7 linked regions of the Homo sapiens genome follow. The protein of the gene in region 2 interacts with the protein of the main gene of each other region in a pairwise test. Each region holds a gene or a part of one and is shown on either strand. Other genes may lie near its edges. The genes, in order: THBS3, NEK7, DRC7, FAHD2A, PABIR3, LGALS8 and GNAO1.

Region 1 (3,500 bases), about 43 Mb from region 2:
CACTGTTCATGGTCTGAACGATTTCCATGCCCTGGGGTTGTATAGTAAAGAAAAAGCTGTGATGCAGGTGTGCTATCCCTCCCAGGCCCCCCGTCCCAGTAGCCCTGTCTGATAGCACCTGCCCAGCCCACTGCCCCGAGTTACCTGGTTGAGCACAACCCAGTTTGGGTCAATCTGAGCATCACCCTCAGGATCCAGGACGACGGTCTGATAGGCCCGAAAATCCGTAAGCGTTACCTCTGCACTTTCAGGACACACATCCAGGGGGTCGACCACAGCATCATTGTCAAAGTCATCCTCACACACATCACCAACGCCATTGCCTGGGCAGAGTGAGGCTGGGTGCTCAGGAAGGCCCTGGCCACTGCCATTAGGCAACAATACCATCTGTTGGGCCTGCATTCCTGACATCTTTCCCCACCTTGCCCTTCCTCACTTCCCAACAGGGCTTGCTGCCTCCACCTGGGCAAAGGCAACACCAGTCTAACGTGCTCTGGGTCCGCAGGCTTACCATCTGAGTCCTTCTGATTGGGATTGGGTACCAGGCGGCAGTTATCGGGACCAGGAGGCACATAATCTGGGATGCCATCATTGTCATCATCCCCATCACACTCATCTCCAAGTCCATCGTTATCAGAGTCCAGCTGGGAGCTATTTGGCAGCTGTGGGCAGTTGTCCTTGGTGTCCTGATGCCCATCCCCATCGCTAATCAGAAGAACAGGTACCAAATAAAGGATTTAAAGGTACTCCTTGTCCTTCCCTTCGCTTCTGCCTGGGAGTCTCTGGAGCCTGCTCTCCATACAATCAGACCCCTGGCAGTCAGCCAGGTGAGGTGAAGGTCTGGCAGTAGGAATGGAGGGATGACTGTAAGAATAAATTCCTGCTGAATAGCAATAGAGAATTAAGGCTAAATCATAGAAGGAATTTAGAATATACTATGGCCTGGGCACAGTGGCTCATGCCTGTATTCCCAGTACTTTGGGAGGCCAAGGCGGGCAGATCACCTGAGGTCAGGAGTTCGAGACCAGCCTGGCCAACACGATGAAACCCTGTCTCTACTAAAAACACAAAAATTAGCTGAGCTTGGTAGCACGCGCCTGTAATCCCAGCTACTCGGGAGGCTGAGGCAGGAAAATCGCTTGAACCCTGGAGGTGGAGGTCGCAGTGAGCCGATATCACTGCACTCCAGCTTGAGTGACAGAGCAAGACTCCATCTCAAAAAAAAAAAGGAGGCCGGGCACGGTGGCTCACGCCTGTAATCCCAGCACTTTGGGAGGCTGAGGCAGGCAAATCACGAGATCAGGAGATCGAGACCATCCTGGTTAACACAGTGAAACCCCGTCTCTACTAAAAACACAAAAAATTAGCCGGGCGTGGTGGCAGGCGCCTGTAGTCCCAGCTACTTGGGAGGCTGAGGCAGAAGAATGGCGTGAACTCGGGAGGTGGAGCTTGCAGTGAGCCGAGATCATGCCACTGTACTCCAGCCTGGGCGACAGAGCAAGACTCCGTCTCAAAAAAAAAAAAAAAAGGATATACTAGAGGAAAGTAAAATATCCCCTATAAGACCTTGCATTTCGCTGGCACAGTGGCTCACACCTGTAATCACAGCACTTTGGGAGGCAGAGGCTGGCGGATCACCTGAGGTAAGGAGTTCGAGACCAGCCTGGCCAACATGGTGAAACCCTGTCTCTACTGAAAATACAAGAATTAGCTGGGCTTGGTAGCACATGCCTGTAATCCTAGCCACTCAGGGAGGTTGAGGCATGAGAATCACTTGACCCTGGGAGACGGAGGTTGCAGTGAGCCAAGATCGTGCCACTGTACTCCAGCCTAGGTGACAGAGCAAGACTCCGTCTCAGAAAGACAAAAAAAAGAAAGACCTTGCGTCTCTTGACCAAGACCTTACCTGTCTTCATTAGTATCACAGACATCCCCCACCAGGTCGCTGTCTGCATCTGTCTGAGAGAGAGGGACCTGTTCTCACCATCTCCTCTTGATAACTCTGAAGAGGGTGATCTGACCACTTTCCATCCAAAGGGCTGGGGCTTCATCCATCAGTACCCTCATCCCTCCCCTGTCCTTACCATCTCCCTGTACCTGGGTAGGATTGCTCATTTCAGGGCAGCTGTCGCAAGCATCTCCCACCCCGTCCTCATCCCTGTCTGTCTGTAGTGGGTTGGGGACTTTAGGGCAATTGTCCAATCCATTGGGGATGCCTAGAAGACATGGGTAGCACAAGGTTGTTACTAGAACATGCCATATTCTCTCTTCTAGGTTGGTGAAAGTCCCGAACTTTGTCTCCCCACCCAGAGGACAACTGGCCAGGAAATCTGCCTGTTTCTTGTCTCACCCTCTAGTCCACACTCTGCCTAACACTACGCCCTACCTCACATTCCTATTGACATCTGCTGCAGGTAATCTCTCCTCACCCAGGCCAACGTCCACAAGCCTGCCTCCCTATTTCACAGAGACTTCCTAGCTTCCCTGCTTCATCCCCACCTGATCCAAATTCTCACAGGTCCCCCAGCCACCCCTTCAGCCCCAGGCCTGCACCATCCCCATCCACGTCGTTGTCACAGGCATCTCCTTCCCCATTGCCATCTGTGTCCTTCTGGTCATTGTTGGGAACGTTGGGGCAATTGTCACAGGCATCACCAAATGAATCTGTATCTGAGTTCTGCTGGTCTTTGTTGGGGAACAGCCGGCAGTTGTCCTGGGCAGAGGGGTGGGAGGGGAAGGGTCAGGTCTCCCCTAAATCACTTGTCATCTTGCACCTACCTTGTCTCTGTATCCTTTTCTAAGATCACACCCTTGTGATGGACAAACTGCTCAGTACAGTCCCACCCACCCAGCCTCCTTGTCCTGGGCACGAGGTTTTTGCCTCCCTGATTTGGAGTATTTGGCCCTTACTAGAGAGCTGCCAGATGAGGTAAGTGAGGCACAGAGAGGACAGGAGGAGGGGAGAGGAGCTTCAAGGGGCAGGGCAGTCTGGGAGTCACCTCAACATTCTTGATCCCATCCCCATCAGCATCATCATCACACTGGTCCCCCACACCATCATTATCAGCATCTTCCTGCCCAGAGTTGGGTGTCAAAAGGCAGTTGTCCTAAAGTTCAGGGGAAGAGGATGGATGAGTTCTGGCCTGACCCAGCTTGGGCTCCCCACTACGCCCCCTTGCCCGCCTGCTCCCTGCACCTGTTTGCAGTGTTTGTTGTTGTCCATGCAGGGCAGTGCTTGGTCTGGGTAGCCATCGATGTCTGTGTCAGTCCCACACACGTTCCCATTCCCAGCCCAGCCCACGTTACACTAGGGCAACACAAAGGGTAGGAGCTAGCAGTTTGGTCTGGCTCCCCTCCTCCCTATATTTTCCCTGCTTCAGGTCCTATTCTCCCCACCAAACAGTTCCTGGGCCCAGGCCCACCTCTCTCCTATGAAGACCCCCAACCCAGGCCCTAAACATAGCCCTACTCCTTTCCCCAGACCCTCCCTTTTCCTTCCA
Region 2 (3,500 bases):
CATTTAAGTATTCTTTTTTTTTCCCCTCAATTATTGCGCATTTACTGAAATATAGACTTCTTTTTTTCACTTAAATATGTGGTCTGAGATATCATTAGAGACTTTTACAGTGTTTCCAGAACTAAACACTATTTTCCTAGGAACTATCTGATGTTTTAAGAATGTACCTCTGTAGTATTACAAATGTCGCCACCATTCAGGGTACCTGAGAACTGGGCCTGAGAGCAGGGCCCAGTTAAGTGTTAGTGATTACGCACTTTTGGGGAAAAAAAAAGTAGGTAATTCCAAAATTTCTTTCAGGTTTTGTTTCCCTTGATTTTTTTTTTTTTTTAAATAGGCTTTGGTATTTTAAAAATGCACAGTGTAGTATTTAAAAAATACACAGTGTAGCTGCAGCTGCAGCTGCACAAAACAGCACTCTGTCCTCATTCCCGGTTTCATTCACATTTAAGTGTTTACCCCTTCGAATTTTTGTTGGAAAACTACGAGGGTAGGTATTTCAGTGCATCGTCTATAAAACATATTAAACTTAATGTACGACTTAAGGGTGTCTTGGAAATGCCATGTATGATTACTGTTTGCTCCGAATTGTTTTATCAGCACTTCATCAGGATTTATGTAAATATATAGCAAGATGTTTTAAGACGCATTTCTTTACCCTTTTGAGACTTTTTCAATTTAATTCTCCCCCCTCCACCCATTTTTGTAGGGAATATGGATGAATAACATTTGGTTACATAATTGTAATCAAATATATGCATTTGTATAATATAATGGCAGTTCAGAATTTTTAAATTGATACAATTCAATCTCAGAGTTATAAAACTTCTAAACTGCTGAATTCTCCTTTGGTAATTAATAGTTTGATTATTCCTAGGTGTTGTGTATTTTCACAAAATTTTTTTTATTCTGAAGAAAACACTTACAGAGTATATTTCATGCTTTTCAGTGGGCAGTGGGAATGAGAAGGACAGATGATCATGAAGCATTCCTTAATATTTTTGAGCAGGATAACTTCTTTTTTAACCTTTGTCAAAATAACTGCCCTGCCATACTATTTAGGTAATGAGGTTATACAATGAGTGGTTTTGTTGTAATAGCTATCAAAGTGTTAAGCGGAACAATATATAAATGAATAAAACTGATTTTAGTGGTCTATAAAAATTGAGAAATACGTGTTTTCTGTTACATAATGGAAATAGGCCTTTTTGTAAATCTTATTAGTAGTCTTCTGTTGGTAGTGGGTAAGGGCTACTTTTTCAATCCAGTCTGCTTTTTTATAGAATAGTGATTCACAATTTTTTTCTCTGAAGGATCACATGGTAAATATTTCTGGCTTTGTGAGCCCTGTGATTGCATCTGCTGCCATTGTAGCCAAATACAGTATCTGACCAAGTGGGCATAGGTGTGTTCAAATAAAGCTTTATTTATACAAATAGGTTGGTAGCTTTCCCCCACTCTAGAAAATAATACCAGAGGTCTAAATGTGGTGCTATGCCATTGATGTTTGGGTTGATTCGGAATTTTCCACAACAGCGTTTTATAATTATTTTTGTGCTTAGACTCTTGTGACAATTTGTTGATCTTCCACAGTTCCCTCAGAATAATACCCAGCTGTCCATTCCCAAATTTTGTGTTTCATTTCAGAGTTTGTCAGCATAAGAACCTCTTTTAGGTTTATCCATGTTTTCAGGTTTCTTCACCATTCTTTGCTTCTGGAGGATCCCACTCCTATCCTGTGACATTGAATGAATGCCTGTCTGTGGCTCCCTGCTTCTGACTAAAGCGACATAGAATCTAATGTCAGTCATTTGTCTTTACTAAATGAAAACTACTAGACAAAGAAACATACCAAAACTTACTCATATGTTTCTTTGTCTAGTAGTTTTTATTTTAAGCCTACTGGTATGACTACCTTTGTCTACTTTAGAGGGAATTTTTGACATAAGCAAGGGGTTGGGCAAATTTTTTTCTTTTTAGGAAACATTAACTTAGTCTTTCAAAAAAGACTCTCCCCCGCCCCAGTAAAAAATATTGGAAAGAGCCTGTGCTTTAGCAGAGGGCCTACAGTCAAGGTATGTTTGGCCTGGGGTAGAGGTACTTCTGACCTTTGCTCTGAAAAGAATTAGCTGTAGACTTACCTGGGTGTAGCTACTGAGTAGCATAGAGCAGAATGGAAAATGCAACAGCTTTGTGAAAAAATTACACAGTACACTTTCTCAGCTCTAGTCAGGAGTGGGTTTTGTGTGTGCTGGACTTTTGACCCCTTAGCCCTCGGGGAAGCCCAGGTAGGACCTGGGACAATCAGAATTCCTGGCTAGTTGCCACCAGCTACAAGCAGTCTCTTCTCTTTATCTGACCCTGCTGCACATATATTATCATTATCTGTGTTTACCATGATGTGGAAAAGACTAGGCAGAAAACTCCAGGGTTGTCATTGCCTACTTTATGACCTTGGTTGAGTTGCTCATTTTATTCAGACTGTAGTTGTCGCAACTCATAAAGTTGCCTTGAGGAGTAAATGAAAATACCTTTGTAAATGTATGGTAGCAGGCCCAGTGTTAGTTTCATTTCACTTACTTCTCTATTCTTAGGACCTTCAGGGGTGGGAAACACATCTCCTGTTGTCAGTTTGTTCTGATGACAGGCCCTGTCACCCACTCTGCCTTGGCCCAGTTTTGTCTTAATGGGCTGCTTCCCACTTCTGCCATTTCCACTTCCTCTGCTTGAATTCTCCTTTTCCTTTGCCCTGTGATTTCCATATTCAAAATTTAATGGTTCCTACATTTGAGTTAGTTTTTATGACTTTCTTTGGAGTGTGGGGAGAGCCAGCAAGCCATAGTTTCTCAGGCAGAAAAAGGCACAAGAGGCTTGGGGGGTTATATTATGGACTACAAATAATGTGAGTTGCAAAAAGATCTTTAAATACAGATTCAAAAAATTGGCAAAATTAAAAATGTTCTTCCTAGCATGCTTAAAATTGTTTTTTTAAATTGTTGAAATATTTCCCCTATATCCTTATATTTACCTAGGTGAATTACTATACATTTTATTATGGTTATAATCATAACAAAGACATATGTCCTTATATTATGGTTGGAAAAGTTGAATAGATGTGTTTATGAAAAATTGTTATACTTCTAAAATGTAATGAATTCCTAATCTTGTATTGCCTTTATATCTAACTGCTGGACCATATAGTAAAGTGATATGATACCGGCACAGTGGCTCATACTTGTAGTCTCAGCACTTTGGGAGGCCAAGGTGGGAAGATTGCTTGAGACCTGGAGTTCAAGACCAGCCTGATCAATATAGTGAGACCCTGTCACTACAAAAAATTTAAAAAAAATTAGTTGGGCTTGGTGGCACGCACCTGTAATCCCAGCTACTTGGGAGGCTAAGGCAGGAGGATTGCTTGGGCCTGGAGGATGGCTTGAGTCTAGGATTTCGAGGCTGCAGTGAGCTGTGATGATGCCACCGCACTCCCACCTGGTGACAGA
Region 3 (3,500 bases), on a different chromosome or scaffold from region 2:
TGAGCAGAAAGGGGTACCAGAAGTAGGCTAGGGGTCACCTGGGTGAAGTTTGGAAGGATCTGAAGGAGTCAGTCCAACAAGGGGAGGAGGGGATGACGGTGTTTCTGGCAGAGACCTGTACAAGCAAAGGCCTGGCAATGTGAGAGTGTGGTTGGCTGCAGGGCAGACCCTCTGATGGGGCTCAAATCCCATTCTTGGGTGGATCTGTGCTTCTGCCTGGCCTGAGAACCCCTCTAGGGCTGGAGCCACCCCTGGTGATTATTCTCCTCGGCCTCCCTGGATCAGGCTTGGGGCTGGAGGAGTTCAGTACACAGAGAACGGGCAGTGGATGGATGAATGGCTGGGCGGGGCTGGCCCTCCCTTCCCCCAAACTAGCAAGAAGAGACCACAGCTGACTGTGTCCACAGCATTTGAGACCCGCTGCCCGAACGGGAAGAAGGTGATTCAGTACAAGAGGGCAAAGCTGGAGAAGTGGGCCCCGTACCTCAATAGCAATGGCCTTGTGAGCCGCCTCACCACCTATGAGGACTTGCAGTGTAAGGGGGATTGCTCTGGACATGGGTCCAGGCCAGCCCAGGGGCGGGGGCGGCTTCTACTCTCTCTGGGGTCATTGCTGGCCTCTGTGTGCCTGGAATAAGGGGGGTTGAAGGCTAGGGGAGCTGGCCTGGCTGCGGCAAGTGTCCATCGGCCCCACAGGTACCAATATTTTGGAGATAAAGGAGTGGTACCAGAACCGGGAAGACATGCTGGAGCTGAAACACATAAACAAGACCACAGACCTGAAGACAGACTACTTCAAGCCTGGCCACCCCCAGGCTCTGCGCGGTGCGTGGCTCCCCTTTCCTGGGCCACCCAGGAGCCTGGGGTAGAGGCCTCACACACCCTGTGGCAGGTGGTATGTGGTGGCAGGAACCAGCATACATATTATACATGGGTTCTTGGGCAGCAAGCAGTAGAAGCTGCCCTGCCTCCCTCAGCAAACCCGATGTGTGGGAGGTCAGGGAAAGCTCAGAAATTCTAAGGAAATATAACAAATGCTCCTCCAGGAAAGCTAAAGGGGGCGCCACATACCCGTTCTGTGGTTGGAATCAGGCCGGAACCTCACCATGGGGTCACACGGTGGAGGCCACATTTAAAGGAGGCAGTGCCGGACACAGGGGCTCACACCTGTAATCCAAGCGCTTTGGGAGGCCAACATGGGCAGTTGAGCCCAGGGGTTCAAGACCAGCCTGGGCTATATGGTGAAACCCCATCTCTACAAAAAATATAAAAATTAGCCAGGCATGGTGGCATGTGCTTGTAATCCCAGCTACTCAGGAGACTAAGGCAGGAGAATCACTTGAACCCAGGAGGTCGAGGCTGCAGTGAGCCGAGATTATGCCACTGCACTCCAGCCTGGGTGACAGATAGAGATCCTGTCTCAAGAAAAAAAAAAAAATCCTGACCAAGAAATTTACAAAAGAAAAGCATAGGAGTAATATACATTTTTTTTAAATGATCAACCTCATTTGGAAGTTGATAATAAAAAAAAAGAAACTAATAAGGTCCCTAACCAATAAAGGACCATCTTATAACCCCCATGTTGGCAAAGATGAAAAAAATGGTCCTACTGGGTATGAACAAGTATGGGAGCAACAGTCACTCTGTGTCACTGTTGATGGGACAGCAGATTGGAACTTTTCTGGAGGACAGTTGGGCAAAATATTGATAATGACCATAAAACGTGTACGCTTTTGGCTGGGCACAGTGGCGCACACCTATAATCACAGCACTTTGGGTGGATCACCTGAGGTCAGGAGTTTGAGACCAGCCTGGCCAACATGGTGAAACCCCGTTTCTACTAAAAATACAAAAATTAGCCAGGTGTGGTGGCAGGTGCCTGTAGTCCCAGTTACTTGGGAGGCTGAGACAGGAGAGTCACTTGAACCCAGGTGGCGGAGACTGCGGTGAGCTGAGATCACACCACTGCACTCCAGCCTGGGTGACAGAGCGAGGCTGTGTCTCAAAAAAAAAAAAAAAAAAAAAGTACACTTTTGGGCCCAGCAATTCCACTGCTGAGAATTTATTCTTAGCAAATAATGGACAAGAACAAAAAATGCACGATGCAGATGTTCATCATGGTGTTGGTAATAATCAGAAAAAGTTGTACGCAACCTAAACACCCAGCAATAGGGGACTGGTTCATAGCTAACCTCATCCATAATGTGGGTCTGTCTTCTCCCTGGGCCTGGGGTTGGGCGACCAAGCCAGCAGCCATACTTCCTAGTGCTTATGAAGCTGTCTCCTCCCAACTCCCGCTCCCCACCCAGTGCACTCGTACAAGTCCATGCAACCTGAGATGGACCGTGTCATTGAGTTTTATGAAACGGCCCGTGTGGATGGCCTGATGAAGCGGGAGGAGACACCCAGGACAATGACAGAGTACTATCAAGGACGCCCAGACTTCCTCTCCTACCGCCATGCCAGCTTCGGACCCCGAGTCAAGAAGCTCACTCTGAGCAGTGCAGAGTCAAACCCCCGGCCCATTGTGGTAAGAGCTCGCGGGGGCTGGGGACAGGTCGCCCTCCTTCTCTGGCAGCTGATGTCACCTCTGAATGGTGAGAGCCCTGGCTCTGGGGTGGCATTAAGGCCTGAGACATATCCAAGGGCACCAATGATGAACCAAGCATTTTACCAAATGTATTAGTCTGTTCTCATGCTGCTTTGAAGAAATACCTGAGACTGGGTAATTTATAAAGAAAAGAAGTTTCCTTGACTCACAGTTCTGCATGGCTGGGGAGCCCTTAGGAAACTTAAAATCATGGCAGAAGGGTCCTTTTCACCTTCTGCCTAGTGAAAAGGGTCCTTTCCACCTTCTGCCTAGTGAAAAGGGTCCTTTTCACTAGAATCAGGGCAGCAGGAGAGAGAATAAGTGCTGAGCAAAGGGGAAGCTGCTTATAAAACCATCAGATCGTGGGAGAACTCACTCACTATCACGAGAATAGCATGGGGGAAACCACCTCCATGATTCAATTATCTCCACCTGGTCCCGCCCTTGACCTATGGGGATTACAGTTCAAGGTGAGATTTTGGTGGGGGGACACGAAACTAAACCATATCACCAAATGCGCCATCCTGGGGTTGTCTGGTGTCAGACTGTGCCCTCAGCCATGGGGCCAAGGATGTGTTACTTCCTTATTGTTATACAAAAATACACACTCATGACTAAACATTTGGAAAATATGTAAAAATGTAGAGAAAAGTAAACATATCTCAGAATGGCATCTCTCATATGTTGCCACGGATTATAGGTTTGGTTTTGAGAGTTTTTTCTAATGTAATTGAGATCGGGACCCAGGGATTAGAGTCCCTGTATTACCCACTTAACATGAAATTGTGCATTTTCCCCTTCATGTCATTACAAATTAGTTGGCAACTGTGTGTAATGGCAGCATGCCAAAGAAGCTCTTTCTAGCAGTAAGGGATGTCTAGCAATGGAGTAGGCTGCCTGGAGAGGTGGT
Region 4 (3,500 bases), on a different chromosome or scaffold from region 2:
CATGGATTGCTTATTACAAAAATAGAAATGCATCTTCACAATGGAGGGACCTAGTGAATGTCAGCTAAACCAAGTGGTCAAATTCTGGGACCACTGACATGAGCCTCCCAGTGGGATACGATGGAAAATGTATAACATCTGCTTTGTAGATCTCTTGATAAAAATGCTTACCCTGACACTAATCATGAAGAAACAACCAGACAAACCCAGAATGTGAAACATGCTATGAGACAACTGGATTCTTCAAGGAAAGGGCAGGGGGTATTGTTTGAGAGCAGGAGTTGGCAAACTATGGCCAGCTCAACATCTGCTATAATCAACTTTGATTGGAAACCCATCATTCATTTCTGTATCGTGGTTTTCACACTATAACAGCAGAGTTGAATTGTTGCAAAACAGAACATATGACACGCAAAGCCTAATATTTACTAATTGGCCCTTGATATGGTTTAGCTCTGTGTCCCCACCCAAATCTCAACTTGTAGCTCCCATAATTCTAACGTGCTATGGGACGGACCCGGTGGGAGATGACTGAATCATGGGGGCAGGTCTTTCCCGTGCTGTTCTCATGATAGTGAATGGGTCTCATGAGATCTGATAGTTTTAAAAATGGGAGTTTCTCTGCACAAGCTCTTTTCTGCCTGCTGCTATCCACCTAAGATGTGACTTGCTCCTCCTTGCCTTCTGCCATGATTGTGAGGCTTCCCTAGCCACGTGGAACTGTAAGTCCAATTAAACCTCTTTTTTTTGTAAATTGCTCAGTCTCGGATATGTCTTTATCAGCAGCATGAAAACAGACTAATACAGCCCTTTAAGAAAAAGTCTATGGAACCCTGTCCTAGATTGAAACCACTAAAGAGATATAACTGAATACAGTGTGTGGCCTTGGTTGATCATGGAGCAACAAACGAAGTAACCAAATTAGAAGTTATCTTTGGGGAAGTCAGCAGTACTTCCGATTGGGAATTGGGGCAATTGGATTTCATATTAAATATTATTCAAGTTAATTTTTTTGGTTGTGATAATGGTGGGATGGTCATGCAAGCCATTGTCCTTATTCTTAGAAGATGCCTATTTACGTTTTTATGACTAAATTGTCTTAATATTTCCAATGTGTTTTAAAAGGTCCCCTCCACCCCATACCCTGCAAAAAAAAAAAAAAAAAAAAAAAATGTGTGTTTGCCATGTGGAGGGCAGGGAGAAGACAAGGGAGAAAAAGGATATATGGCCAAATGTTTACAATGAAACCAGGTGGAAAAGTTATCTGAGTGTTCACTGTATTATTTTCCCAGCTTTTCTATAATTTTCAAGACATTTCTAAAATAAAAATCTGAGAGAAAAAGTAACCAGTGTTAGAAAGGGTATATACACTACTGGTGGATGTGTAAGTTGCTTTTACAATTTTTTAAAAGGCCAATTGGCAGAATTTTTCAAAAATTTTGAAATACTGCCTATACGCTGACATATTTAAATTCCAAAGGGTTTATTCAAAGGAAATAATAATGTATTAATGGACATGCAAAGCCTTTTCCACATAAGGATGTTTACTGCAACATTTATTTATAGAAGCCAAAAACTAGAAACAGTATCCAGCAGTAAGGTACTCAGGAATAAACTAATCTACATAACAAACTCCGTGGTGTCAGGGCGAATACTTAATGGCATGAAAAAATGCTCCTGATGGAGTCTTAAGTAAAAGGTAAGTATATGTACAGTATAAACATATACAGGAGCGGAGAAACACTGGGAAGGTAGACAGAAAAACATTAATATTCCGAGCCATGGGCAGTGGGATTATGGGTGACATAATTTTTTAATGTTTATCTCTATTTTATTATCTACAGTGAAGGTGCATTGCTTTTGTAACCAGGAAAACACGTACATTAACTTTTTTTTTCCAAGGCCAGTGTTACTACTGTGTGTACAATCCTGTAGAGTTTCTGCTGAATGCGCTATTGAGCGAGAGGTGGCTCCAGTAGGCTCAATACTGAGCTCAGAATGCCCTTGTGATGGGCCCAGTGACTAGGGAGGGCAGTGGGGAGACACTGACCTGGCTCTGTGGTGGGAGGACCACCTCATCATAGGGCCCCACGATGGAGCTGGCAAACTTGCTGAAGATGATGGGCTCCTTGGGCACGGGCACGTTCTGTTCTTTGCAGTGGTCCACATAATTCATGCCCACACACACCACCTTATCTGGTCGTGTGACTGGAGCCAGGAAGGTTACCTCCGACCGTGGTAGGACTGGCAACTGGGCAGCCAGGGCTCTGTAGAGACCAGAGCAGGTGAGAGGGTCTGGCTGGGAACAGGTGGGCAATCCCGGGCAGGCTGGGCAGATCCTGCAGCAGCTACAGGTTTTGCTTTTTGAAATCTATTTCCTAGCTCTATCAACCATCAGAGTCAGTGTGAAAATCACTGACTATTGTCCTTTGCTATCAGAGCAGGGCTTTTATTTATCCAGTGTTGATTTCCTCTCCCCCTTAGGTAACTCATGTCCATGTAAAAGATACAAACTGGAATACATGGAAAGGTTTCCCTTTCCCCTTCCGGTTACCCCGTTCCCCTGGCTCTTCGCAGCTACTCTATGGATATTCTTCTCCCACCCTTTTGTATGCAAATGATAGCATACTATTTACATCTTTTAAAAAAACAACTGATTTTGGAGATCTCTGCTTAACAATATGTAACAATACATAGAGAGTGTCCTCTTTATTTCTTGTGGCTGCATATTACTGCTCTATAGAGATATACCCAAGTCCCTAATGAGGGGCATGGAGATTTCCAGTCTTTGCAGAATATGGCAATATGGGAACATACTGTTAATACTGTGAGCTGTGAAACATTTGTATTTTTTTCCATTTTAATAGATGAAAATGACATCTTAAAGTATTTTTAATTTATTGTTCATCAGCTCCTTAGACCAGATTCTATAGGGGTCCAGGCTTCAGGGACACTCTCACCTAATCTAGTCCAAACCCAGGAACCAAGTGTCTTATAGAAAACCTCCTTGCAGTCCTCTCTCCTTGTAGGAGCTGGGAGTCTATATCACTCCCCCAGCTGCATAAGATGCCTTTTAGGACCCCCGGGCCCAGACCCGTCAGTCAGTCCAGGACTTCATTCCCAGAGGAGGCAGTGTGATGAAGTATAGAGTCCTGGTTCCAGCACCACATGTATGGCCTTCAAATTGTTAATCACCTCCCCTAGCTCTCAGTTTTCTCCTCTGAAAACTGAAGATGTTATTATGTAAGATTTCTAAGGATCTTTTAAGAGAACGGGAGAAAAGGAAAGGTGGGGTTACTCTGCTCCCTTGCAAAAGAGCTACCTGCTGGTGCTGTTTCCCAGAGCGGGGAGGGTGCAGGGGGACCAGGGCAGCTGCTTCAGGGCGATGCTGCCCACTTACTTACCTTCTTGCCACTGAGAGGGTGGCCTCTCCCTGCTCTAGGAACTGCGTCATCGTCTTCGGGAGTGTGGGGTCAAAGGCATTGAGGTTGATAACCCCT
Region 5 (3,500 bases), on a different chromosome or scaffold from region 2:
CACACCTGTAATCCCAACACTTTTGGAGGCCAAGGCAGGCAGATCACCTAAGGTCAGGAGTTCGAGACCAGCCTGGCCAACATGGTGAAACCCTGTGTCTACTAAAAAAATACAAAATTAGCCGAGTGTGGTGGTGCATGCCTGTAATCCCAGCTACTTGGGAGGCTGAGGCAGGAGAATCACTTGAACCCAGGAGGCGGAGGCTGCAGTGAGCTTAAATCACGCCACTGCACTCCAGCCTCGGTGACAAGAGCCAAACTGCATCTCAGAAAAAAAGTAAAAATAAAAACAAAGAAAAGCAGTAAAATGATGTAATATCCTACACAGAGTCCCGTTTTTGTGTATGTCCTTAGATCTGTTATAATGAAATAGTCATTGTTGATTTTGTTAAAAAAAATTTCTTATAATGATCATGATGATTTTATTTTAGAAGAAGTCAAAATCCTACCAACATTATTAGACCAAGTATCCTTGGACCATTAAAAAGAAAAGGTACTTTTATCTAACAGTAGAAGTAAATATAACTTTAAGTTATTTTATAAAATATCTAAAATCAAATGTTATACAAAAATGTATTTTTAAAGGCTTTATTTATTTAAAATATATTTAATAAGCTATTAGAGGCCTTTCATTTTATGCAACTAGAAATATGTATAAGGACATTTTGAAAACTCTAAAATGCTATATAAATGTGAATTGAGAAATTTAATTCCAATTTAGTTGGCTATTAGGATTTTCAATATAATTCACCAAGGTAGCTATCTTCATTACTTTCTAAAACAATGTAGAGAATAAATGAATGAATGAACAGAGTGAGTCAGTCATCAAGTATTTTGCTGAATGTCAACCCCTGCCTCACTGCCACACACACACATTGCTATCATATGAATAAGTTGACACAAATTAGATCCACTTACAACACTAAAAATATATATGAAGGTGTATGTTCTTTGGTGTTTAGTTTCTTTATGGGAGTTATTTTTGGTTAAATATATGGAAAGTGACCCACCTACTCAGTAATAAAAGGGCAGTGGAAAGAATAAAAGGGCAGTGGAAAGATGTCTTTTTTAAAAACTCCTGCAATCCTGGATCCCACTTCTCAATGGTACCTCACTAAATTATGCTCTTCTTCCTTTTTTTTTTTTTTTTTTCTTGAGACAGAGTCTTGCTCTGTCACCCAGGCTGGAGTGCAGTGGCACAATCTTGGCTCACTGCAACCTCTTCCTCCCGGGTTCAAGCGATTCTCCTGCCTCAGCCTCACCAGTAGCTGGGATTACAGGTGCCTGCCACCATGCCCAGCTAATTTTTTTGTATTTTTAGTAGAGACAGAGTTTCACCATGTTGGCCAGGCTGTTCTCGAACTCCTGACCTCAGGTGATCCACCCACCTCGGCCTCCCAAAGTGCTGAGATTGCAAGCATAAGCCTGTATATTTAGTACAATTTTTGACTACAATGGGGAGGGGAAATGGGTGAATAGGAAAGGAGATTAAACTTAAAAATGTGTATTGTGAAAAATCTATTAAGGTAAGAAAGAGGAGTAAGAAGAATAAGAGGAGAGAAACTGAAATATGCTTTAATGTTCTTTGTATATTTTCGATTAATTAATGGCAGTCTTCCTAACAACATAACTAACTCAGCATGTACTTTTTGTATTCTAAGATTAAGGGCTAGATAAATTCTGGAAAATACTCTTTTCCAAAGTAAGCACATTGTTTTATGAAGATGCTTCGGTTACTAAGCTTAGGGGTCTTTTACCTGTGCTGTGAAATTCGGGCTAGTGTTGAAAAAATATTCAAATATATCAGCAGTTTAAGAGCTGTTAGAAGTCAAGGGTCAATTGAGTATTTAAAATAAAGTACGCTTAAATTGAGGAGTGTTTTACCAGATTAAAATAGTTCTCCTTTTGAGACATGTATACATAAATAGGTTATCACATGAAAAGTATCTCGAGTTTTCTTAGAATTTATGATTGAAAAATTATTTTTATAGATCAATTTTAACATAAAAGATGTAGTTTCTGCCCAGTGTCTTCGGAGATGTGACCTGTCTCACACTTGGTTTTCAGCTGCTCTGAAAGACGACTGCCTTATTCCTTTGAGGTGTCCCTGAGGGAACTCCAAAGCGAATTCTGTATATACCACCTAGTCCATATTTTCAGTCATACCCCACCCTCCAAAGCATGCCCTGTACAAATGTGCTGAAAATTCATTTGGCCATTTTTGGCCAGATACAATAACAGATAAACAGAAATTGAAATTTATTCATATATTTTGGAATATGCATATTCATTTGGGAAACAACAAACTATGTCCTATTTGGACCCCATTAATACAAATGAAATGTGGGAGAAAGGTACCATAAAAATAAAAGAGAGGTCCTGAGGCAGGGGGCGGGGGGAACTAAAAAGAATGATGATTATGTGAAGTGAGATCAAGATTAGAGTCTCCAAAGCATATGATGTCATATTTTATGGTGAGAAGCAGCAGTGACTTCCATTAGGAATAAGCAAGAGCATGGGCCGGGCACAGTGGCTCATGCCTGTAATCCCAGCACTTTGGGAGGCCGAGGCGGGCGGATGACTTGAGGTCAGGAATTCAAGACCAGCCTGGCCAACATGACAAAACCCTGTCTCTACTAAAAATACAAAAATTAGCCAAGGGTGGTGGTGTGTGCCTGTAATCCCAGCTACTCAGGAGACTGAGGCAGGAGAATCGCCTGAATCCAGGAGGCGGAAGTTGCAGTGAGCCGAGATCACACCACTGCACTCCAGCCTGGACAACAGAGTAAGACTCTGTCTGGAAAAAAAAAAAAAAAGGAATAAGCGAGAGCAAATAAGCCTTCACATCGGAATACTGCAGAAATTGGGCAGCTATAAATATCGTTTGACAAGTAATGCTGGTTTTAGCAAAGAAAGATCTAATTTTCTTTTATGAGGAATATGTTTTGATTTGTCATGTTTTCAATGTTAAACCAAAAAAGAGAGCTGAGTAGTTTTTCTGTAGTGACATAAATGTAATCTGGCAAGGCACGGGACACCAGACTTCTTTTAAACTTTATGAGCCATGATTACACTTCTGTGGAAGGTCTATGCAATATCTTAATGGTGACCTTAGGGTTTTATCATTCAAATAGAAGTTATGGGCTTGAATGTCAGTTTTGCTCAGGTCCAGAAATGATTATCATATGAATGTGAAACACTGTGCAGATTTTAACATTTACTTCAAGGCAAAGATTACAAAAATGCAGTTGTTGTTTTTTTTGAGATTAGATGTTCTACCTTAATCTCTAAAGATACAATTATTTTGTTCATTGTGTGCTGTAAAAGAACTTACCTATTTAGTTCATTGTGTACATTTAGCAAAATAAAGATAGCAACAACCTAAAGTTTTAAAATAAGGAATGACATTAAACTCATTAAACAGCCTTACTACATAGCTATATCAAATCATCTTGCAGGCCGGGCACAGTGGCTCACGCCTGTAATCCCAGCATTTTGGGA
Region 6 (3,500 bases), about 38 Mb from region 2:
CATTAAAGACAAAATTTCACTAGTAAAACCAAAAAAGAAAAGAGAGTGAAAAATCAGAGGGCAGAGCCTTAGTGAGGAAATCCACTCTCAGTCAGGAAGGCAGGCAGCAAAAAGAGAAGAAAAACAGCACAAAGGCTAGAAGGTATCTCACAGGTTACAAAAGAAAGACTTGACTGTGTTGTGTTTTAAGACTAAATTGTAAGGTAAAAAAGGAGTACTTAGAATACTAAGCAGAAAAGGATAAACATGGAAGCAAGGTTCCTAAGAAAACTGGGTACCAGGTAGGATTTATGTTGACAAGCAACTTATTAACTTGGAGTAACAACCAATTCTGTTTCATTTCTAAATGATTTCTTAACCAGCTAGCATTTAATCATATCTTAAGAACTCTATAAACAATAGCAAAATTAAATATATAGGTAGATAATGAACTGCCAAACAAGAAATTTCACTGGCAGCATTCCTGGTATGAAGTAAAGATACTGTCTTCCAAATTATTCATTCAAATTCAATAGAAAGAAAAGTAAGTGGCCAGCCACGGTGGTTCACGCCTATAATCCTAGCACTTTGGGAGGCCGAGGCGGGCGGATTGCCTGAGCTCAGGAGTTCGAGACCAGGCTGGCCAACATGGTGAAACCCCGTCTCTACTAAAATACAAAAGAACAATTAGCGGGGCGTGGCGGTGTGCGCCTGTAGTCCCAGCTACTCGGGAGGCTGAGGCAGGAGAATTGCTAGAACCCAGGAGGCAAAGGTGGCAGTGAGCCGAGATTGCACCACTGCACTCCAGCATGGGCAATAGAGCAAGCCTCCATCTCTTAAAAAAAAAAAAAAAAAGAGAAGAAAGAAAAAAAAAAAAAAACAGAAAAGGAAGCCTAACTTTTTTTTTCTTTTTTTTTTTTTGAGATGAAGTATCACTCTGTCGCCCAGGATGCAGTGCAGTTGTGCAATCTTGGCTCATTACAACCTCCACCTCCCGGGTTCAAGTGATTCTCCTGCCTCAACCTCCCATGTAGCTGGGATTACAGGCCACCGCCACCATGCCCGGCTAATTTTTGTATTTTTAGTAGAGACGGGGTTTCACTGTGTTAGTCAGGCTGGTCTCGAACTCCTGACCTCAAGTGATCCTCTCGCCTCGGCTTCCCAAAGTGCTGGGATTACAGGCATGAGCCGCAGCACCCGGACTCTGACTTTTTATTTTTATTTTTGAACATGGTTCTTGCTCTGTCACCCAGAATGAAGCACAGTGTCAAACTCACAGCTCACTGCAGCCTCAACCTCCTGGGCTCAAGCAATCCTCCCACCTCACTCTTCCTCATAGCTGGGACTACAGACATGCGCCACAATCCCCAGTTAATTTTTGTATTTTTATAGAGAGACAAGGTCTCACTATGTTGCTCAAGCTGGTCTTGAACTCCTGGGCTCAAGTGATCCACTAGCCTTGGCCTCCCACAGTGCTGGAATTACAGGCATGAGCCTCTGGACCCAGCCTTAGAGCCTGACTTTTTTAAGTCTTGGAATTCTATCAGTTGAACTAGTCAAAGAAATATACTAAATAGGGAAAAAAATACATAGGCCAGTTGCAATATTTACTTCATCTTTTCCAAGAAAACTTAATGTGGACAGTTGGTCTAACACCAATGTGGACCAAAATATTAGAAATAGGCCAGGCATGGTGGCTCATGCCTGTAATCCCAACACTTTGGGAGGCCGAGGCGGGAGGAGTGCTTGACCAGACTGAGAAACATGGCAAAACTCTGTCTTTACCAAAAAAAATACAAAAATTAGCCAGGCATGGTGGTGCATGCCTGTAGTCCCAGCTATTTACAAGGCTGAGCCCAGGAGGTGGAGGTTGCAGTGGGGTAAGACTGCACCACTCCACTCCAGCCTGGATGACAGAGCGAGCCTCTGTCTTAAAAAAAAAAAAAAAAAAAAAAATTGGAAACATTAATGAAATAAAAATTAAAAAGTGGCGGTGTGTTTATAATGCCTAATAAAGAATACAACAGACAATAAATATATTTACTTATTGAACCTATCAGTAACAAAACAACCATGATTCAAGAAAACAGGTTTTGTGTGTGGGGGGGTTTTTTTTTTTTTGAGATGGAGTCTCGCTCTGTCACCCAGGCTGGAGTGCAGTGGCACCATCTCGGCTCACTGCAACCTCCGCCTCCCAGGTTCAAGTGATTCTCTTGCCTCAGCCTCCCGAGTAGCTGGGATTACAGGAGGCTGCCATCACGCCTGGCTAATTTTTGTATTTTTAAGTAGAGACGGAGTTTCGCCATCTTGGCCAGGCTGGTCTTGAACTCCTGACCTCGTGATCCACCTGCCTCGGCCTCCCAAAGTGCTGGGATTACAGGTGTGAGCCACCATGCCCAGCTGAAAACCGTTTTCCTAAGTCTAGCTTATAAAATATACTAATTGATTATCTTTAAATAACTAAGTTGGCCAGGCATGGTGCCTCACGCCTGTAATCCCAGCACTTTTGGAGGTCAAGGTGGGCACATCACCTGAGGTCAGGAGTTTGAGACTAGGCTGGCCAACACTGTGAAACCCCATATCTACTAAAAACACAAAAATTAGCCGGGCATGGTAGCACGTGCCTGCAGTCCCAGCTACTCAGGAGGCTGAGGCACTAGAATTGCTTGAACCCGGGAGGCAGAAATTGCAGTAAGCCGAGATTGCATCATTTCACTCCAGCCTGGGTGACCAGAGGGAAACTATATCTCAAAAAATTAAAAAAAAAAAATTAATTGAATAAATAAAATAAGTTATTTACAGCCTTTTTTTTTGGAACATTGAAAGGGCAACTAGCTACAAATGAGAGAAATTCAGTGCAATACAGGCCCTTTATACTATAAATATTTTACAGCAGTGAAACGTAAAGAGAGCGCAAAATGTTTTTGCCATTCAGTTCAGTCTACCTCTAACCTTTCCGACTCTTTTGTGAGAACTGATAATAAAACAGAGAATTTTGAAAAGAAAGAAAAAAAAGCTATTTGCCAAAAATATCTCCCTTGGAAATGCATTATCCTCAGAACAGCATCCAGCCCATGCCACAAGACTGAAGGCATTTTCTGCTCTAGCGCAGAACTACTTCTCCAGATCCCCTTCCTCAAGAAATGAAGTCTACTTATTTTTGTTCCACCTCAATAGTTGAGAGTACTGACCCCAGAAACTACAGGAATCAGCAGTATGCTAGAATCAAGATATGCACGAATTTTACCTATAAAATTATCTTCTTTTCTGTGTGAAGGGCAGAAATGAACAGTGTAACCTTTATCCATTCTCCCAGCTTGAGCCAAGATGATACTTCAGACACCCGTGGCAGGCAGCCTAGTTTGTTGTTGTTGTTGTTGTTAAGATCTTTGCAGGAAATCAGTTTACAACCTTGGGATGTTTTTAACTCTAACATGCGCAAAGTCATCTTAAATGTCTCACAAGCTTCCGCTTCAGGAAGTCATCTTTTTTAAACTTACTACCACTGAAAGGCTATTTCT
Region 7 (3,500 bases), on a different chromosome or scaffold from region 2:
CTCAGACAAGATCAAGCTTTTATATGAGACTACCATGTTTATTATAATACTGTTTTGTCATTTTTTCATTTAAAAGATAATAATGGCCAACAGATAGGTTCTATTCTTTGCATGTGTAACCATGTTTCATGTGTAATTTCCCTGAGTTAAATGTACTAAAACTGGGGCTCATCGAAGGTAAGTACCTTGCCTGAGGCTGTGACCCGGACCCTTGGCTCCAGAGGCCATAATTTTATTACTGTCTGGGGCTTCAGCGGCCCCTGAGCAGTTCCCTGCCTTCTCCACACTTCCTTCTCACTTACCAAGGGGTCTGTGTGCCCCTTCCAATTTGATGCTCTTGGAGGCTCAGGGCTGCACAGCCATACAGCGGCTGGGCCTCCCTGGGACCCGGTCTTTGGAATCAGGGCTCTTTACCCCTGCTACCTCCTGCTGTGGGGACAGACCAGGCTTTTGCAAGTCACCTGCCCAGGCCTCAGGCCAAGCACTCAGAGGACGCTGCCTGCAAGGGCTTTGGGGTTCATTGTGGGTTAAGTTTGAACCTAAAGCCAGGGTAGGATCTGGGAAATCAGGAAGTGGGGAGCTGGGCCAGGCCTGAAGGAAGACTCAGTGATCCATGGAGCCTGCCAGGCCACCCATCCCTGCTGCCGGGGCAAACCACAAGCAGCCCACAGGGAGGAGCCCCAAGTGTCTGAACCACAGAACGATGTGGGGTCCCAGGCTGCATCTGCTCCAGGACCTGCTGGGGGCCAGCTTGCTGGCTGGACCTGCAGTTACCACTGCATGAGAGATGGGCATGCTGACCAGCTCATGGATGTCCACAGGGCTGGAAAGGGCAGATGACTTCGCCAGCTAGGGTGTTCACTGATAGAACCCAGTGACAATCCTTGTGAGAATGCCCCTAAGAAAAGAAAACAGAAGGGTGGCTTCCAAGGCTCAGGGAGGTAAGCTTGAAGTCACACTGCGAGAAAATGAACTTGGCAGCCGGGTGCGGTGGCTCACGCCTGTAATCCCAGCACTTTGGGAGGCCAAGGTGGGCGGATCATGAGGTCAGGATTTTGAGACCATCCTGGCCAACATGGTGAAACCCCATCTCTACTAAAAATGCAAAAATTAGCTGGGCCTGGTGGCAGGTGCCTATAATCCCAGCACTCAGGAGGCTGAGGCAGGAGAATCGCTTCAACCCAGGAGGCGGAGGTTGCAGTGAGTTGAGATCGTGCCACTGTACTCCAGCCTGGGTGACAGAGCAAGACTCTGTCTCGGGGAGAAAAAAAAAAAAAAGAAAAAAAGAAAATGCACTTGGCTGGGATTCCAGCCCAGTTCTGACTGGCTCCAGACCCCACGCTCTTAAACTGGACATCATCAGCATTTTAAAAATCCAGAAAAAAAATTTAAACAGGACTCCTGGCCTCCTCTCCTGAGCCTGACTGCCCTCCGTGGACAGGAACGGTGTGGGGATGGGGTGAGAGAGCCGAGGCTGCAGAGCAGACCTGTACACGCCCCCGGCCTCACAGCCTCCTCGCCAGCCAGTGGCATCTGGGCAGGCTCTGGTCTCAGCCAGAAGGAGCCTCTCCCAAGCCTCTGTGCCTGCCCCGCCCTGGCGCCCATGACCTCTGCTTCCAAGCTGTGAGGACGCCCTCTGCTGTCATCTGCAGCTGGACACCAGCCTGGAAGCGTTTGGTCCTGCTCTTCCTTTCCCAGCCAGGGCAAACCTCCTTTAGATGGGCAACCTGGCCCTCTGGCCTCTCTGTGCTGGCCGAGCCTCATGCAAGGAGACGGCTGTGGAGGGTGGGCAAGGTGTGGGAGAACTGCTTAACAACCCAGTCGGGAAGGCTGACTGTGCACCTGCTGTCCATCCCACCTAGCCACTGTTCCAGGAGCTGGGGATGGGGCAGTCGACACAGCCCCACCTTCCCAGGGCCTGTGTTCCAAGTGAGTGTGCACACGTGTGTGAGGTGGTAAACAGAAGAGTCAGAGAGATGATATGTCAGGAGGTAGTGTGAGAGAACGAATCAGGCTATTAGTGATGGGGGAGAGCTGCTGGGGGCTGCTATTTGATGCAGGGTGGTTGGGGAAGGCGTCTGGATAGGGGAGACTGAGGGGAATGAGGGAGCAAGTGGGCCTCGAGTGGCCCAGTGGAAACACTGGCAGGCATGGCGGCAGGAAGCACACGTGGAGGGGCCAGGTGGTGGGTGAGGCTGGGGAAGGTGGTGGAGGTGAGGGTGGCCAGAGTCCGGCTGGGGCAAGCAGGCCCTTGAGGTCATTGTCAGGGCTTGAGCTTTTGCTCTGAGTGAGATGGGAGCCCCTCGAGGGTTCTGGCCAGAAGCATGTTGACAACGGCCCTGTTGCTGCCATGAGAGCAGGTCAGCGGGTGGGGCCTGCAGAGCTGCTGTCGTCACCAGATGGCACTGGCACAGTGGGGGTGGCTGTGGAGGGTGTGAGTGGTCAGAATCTGATGTACCTGCCAGGGGAGCTGCATCTGCTGGTGGCCTCGGTGTGGGATACAGGAGGACGAGCAGAAGTAGAGATACCTCCACGTGGTGGAATGAGACACATTTAGAGGGAGGGAGGAGCACACAGAGCAGCTTCTAGTGGGAGGATGGGAGCCAGGGGTTCCACGGGCTCATGTTAACTTGAGACTCATTTGATGTCCAAACAGGCACTGAGTAGGCAGAAGTCAGGAGGGAGGGCTGGGCTGGCGATATGAATTTGAGAGTTGTCCAAGTGTACAAGGTGTTTAAAACGAGACAGGAGAAGGTCACCAGGCACCAGGCCTTGAGAGGAGGTGCTTCTGGGATGGAGCTTGGGGACGGGATACAGCAGCCCCCAGCAGACCTCCCCCATCACCAGTTGCCTGGGTGGGTGGGCAGGAGGCATCGAGGGAGTCTGGAAAGGGCGGCCCGAGAGGAGGCGGGGGCTGGGAGTGAAAGGAGGTACCAGGTACTAGGGGACTGAACCCTGAACCCTGAGTGGGAGGAGGCTGATGGAGCAGCCCCCAGGATAGGACTGGGCTATGAGCCATCTCAGCAGGCGGAGGAGCAAGAGCTCGATAGGAGTGGGGTCAAGAGAGAAGGTGAGGAGAGGAAACGTCGGACGCCAGCATGGACAACTCAGTGGGGAACTGGATTTGAGGAAAGCCAATGCCAACCAGGCCCCAGAGCACCTTTCACAGCCCCTGGTTGGATGTGCCCAGGGTTTCTGGGACCTGCCTCTAGGTAGTTATCCAGAAGGGAGAGCCAGCCCTGTTCACAGAGGCCGGGGTGCACCAAGAGCCTGCTCAGGAGCCTGTGCCCTGGTCCCTCCCCTGTAAAGGGCTGGGCAGAGAAGTGCTTTGGTGGTTGGGGCATTAGGGTGTCAATGGCACCCCCTGGAAGCACGTGCTGTGGCAGCCCTGTGAGTCCTCCCTCTCCTTTCCAGCACAACAAACCTACTCTGATCTGCTTTCTATACTGGGCCCAAGACTTTGTCAGAAGCTGAGGTCTAACTGCTAAGACAGGAAATGT

Evidence for each region.
Region 1: the proteins of NEK7 (region 2) and THBS3 interact in binary tests that used the Homo sapiens proteins (3 or more experiments, as listed by UniProt).
Region 3: the proteins of NEK7 (region 2) and DRC7 interact in binary tests that used the Homo sapiens proteins (3 or more experiments, as listed by UniProt).
Region 4: the proteins of NEK7 (region 2) and FAHD2A interact in binary tests that used the Homo sapiens proteins (3 or more experiments, as listed by UniProt).
Region 5: the proteins of NEK7 (region 2) and PABIR3 interact in binary tests that used the Homo sapiens proteins (3 or more experiments, as listed by UniProt).
Region 6: the proteins of NEK7 (region 2) and LGALS8 interact in binary tests that used the Homo sapiens proteins (3 or more experiments, as listed by UniProt).
Region 7: the proteins of NEK7 (region 2) and GNAO1 interact in binary tests that used the Homo sapiens proteins (3 or more experiments, as listed by UniProt).

What each region holds. Positions count from the first base shown.
Region 1 is NC_000001.11:155,197,898-155,201,397, forward strand, and holds part of THBS3 (thrombospondin-3 isoform 1 precursor), read right to left. Parts: intron 3,308-3,500; coding exon 3,197-3,307; intron 3,108-3,196; coding exon 3,000-3,107; intron 2,930-2,999; exon of another isoform or gene 2,803-2,929; intron 2,714-2,802; coding exon 2,554-2,713; intron 2,415-2,553; exon of another isoform or gene 2,275-2,414; intron 2,217-2,274; coding exon 2,098-2,216; coding exon of another isoform or gene 2,085-2,097; intron 1,960-2,084; coding exon 1,907-1,959; exon of another isoform or gene 1,901-1,906; intron 722-1,900; exon of another isoform or gene 706-721; coding exon 512-705; exon of another isoform or gene 447-511; intron 365-446; exon of another isoform or gene 324-364; coding exon 145-323; intron 32-144; coding exon 1-31. UniProt on the Homo sapiens protein: Adhesive glycoprotein that mediates cell-to-cell and cell-to-matrix interactions. Can bind to fibrinogen, fibronectin, laminin and type V collagen.
Region 2 is NC_000001.11:198,159,998-198,163,497, forward strand, and holds part of NEK7 (serine/threonine-protein kinase Nek7), read left to right. Parts: intron 1-3,500. UniProt on the Homo sapiens protein: Protein kinase which plays an important role in mitotic cell cycle progression. Required for microtubule nucleation activity of the centrosome, robust mitotic spindle formation and cytokinesis.
Region 3 is NC_000016.10:57,722,306-57,725,805, forward strand, and holds part of DRC7 (dynein regulatory complex subunit 7), read left to right. Parts: intron 1-407; coding exon 408-536; intron 537-696; coding exon 697-825; intron 826-2,309; coding exon 2,310-2,530; intron 2,531-3,500. UniProt on the Homo sapiens protein: Component of the nexin-dynein regulatory complex (N-DRC) a key regulator of ciliary/flagellar motility which maintains the alignment and integrity of the distal axoneme and regulates microtubule sliding in motile axonemes.
Region 4 is NC_000002.12:95,405,708-95,409,207, reverse strand, and holds part of FAHD2A (oxaloacetate tautomerase FAHD2A, mitochondrial), read right to left. Parts: coding exon 3,405-3,500; intron 2,268-3,404; coding exon 2,051-2,267; intron 1-2,050. UniProt on the Homo sapiens protein: Tautomerase that converts enol-oxaloacetate, a strong inhibitor of succinate dehydrogenase, to the physiological keto form of oxaloacetate. It is thereby required to maximize aerobic respiration efficiency by preventing succinate dehydrogenase inhibition.
Region 5 is NC_000023.11:134,848,737-134,852,236, forward strand, and holds part of PABIR3 (PABIR family member 1), read left to right. Parts: intron 1-430; coding exon 431-492; intron 493-3,500.
Region 6 is NC_000001.11:236,526,982-236,530,481, reverse strand, and holds part of LGALS8 (galectin-8), read right to left. Parts: intron 1-3,500.
Region 7 is NC_000016.10:56,330,989-56,334,488, reverse strand, and holds part of GNAO1 (guanine nucleotide-binding protein G(o) subunit alpha), read right to left. Parts: intron 1-3,500. UniProt on the Homo sapiens protein: Guanine nucleotide-binding proteins (G proteins) function as transducers downstream of G protein-coupled receptors (GPCRs) in numerous signaling cascades.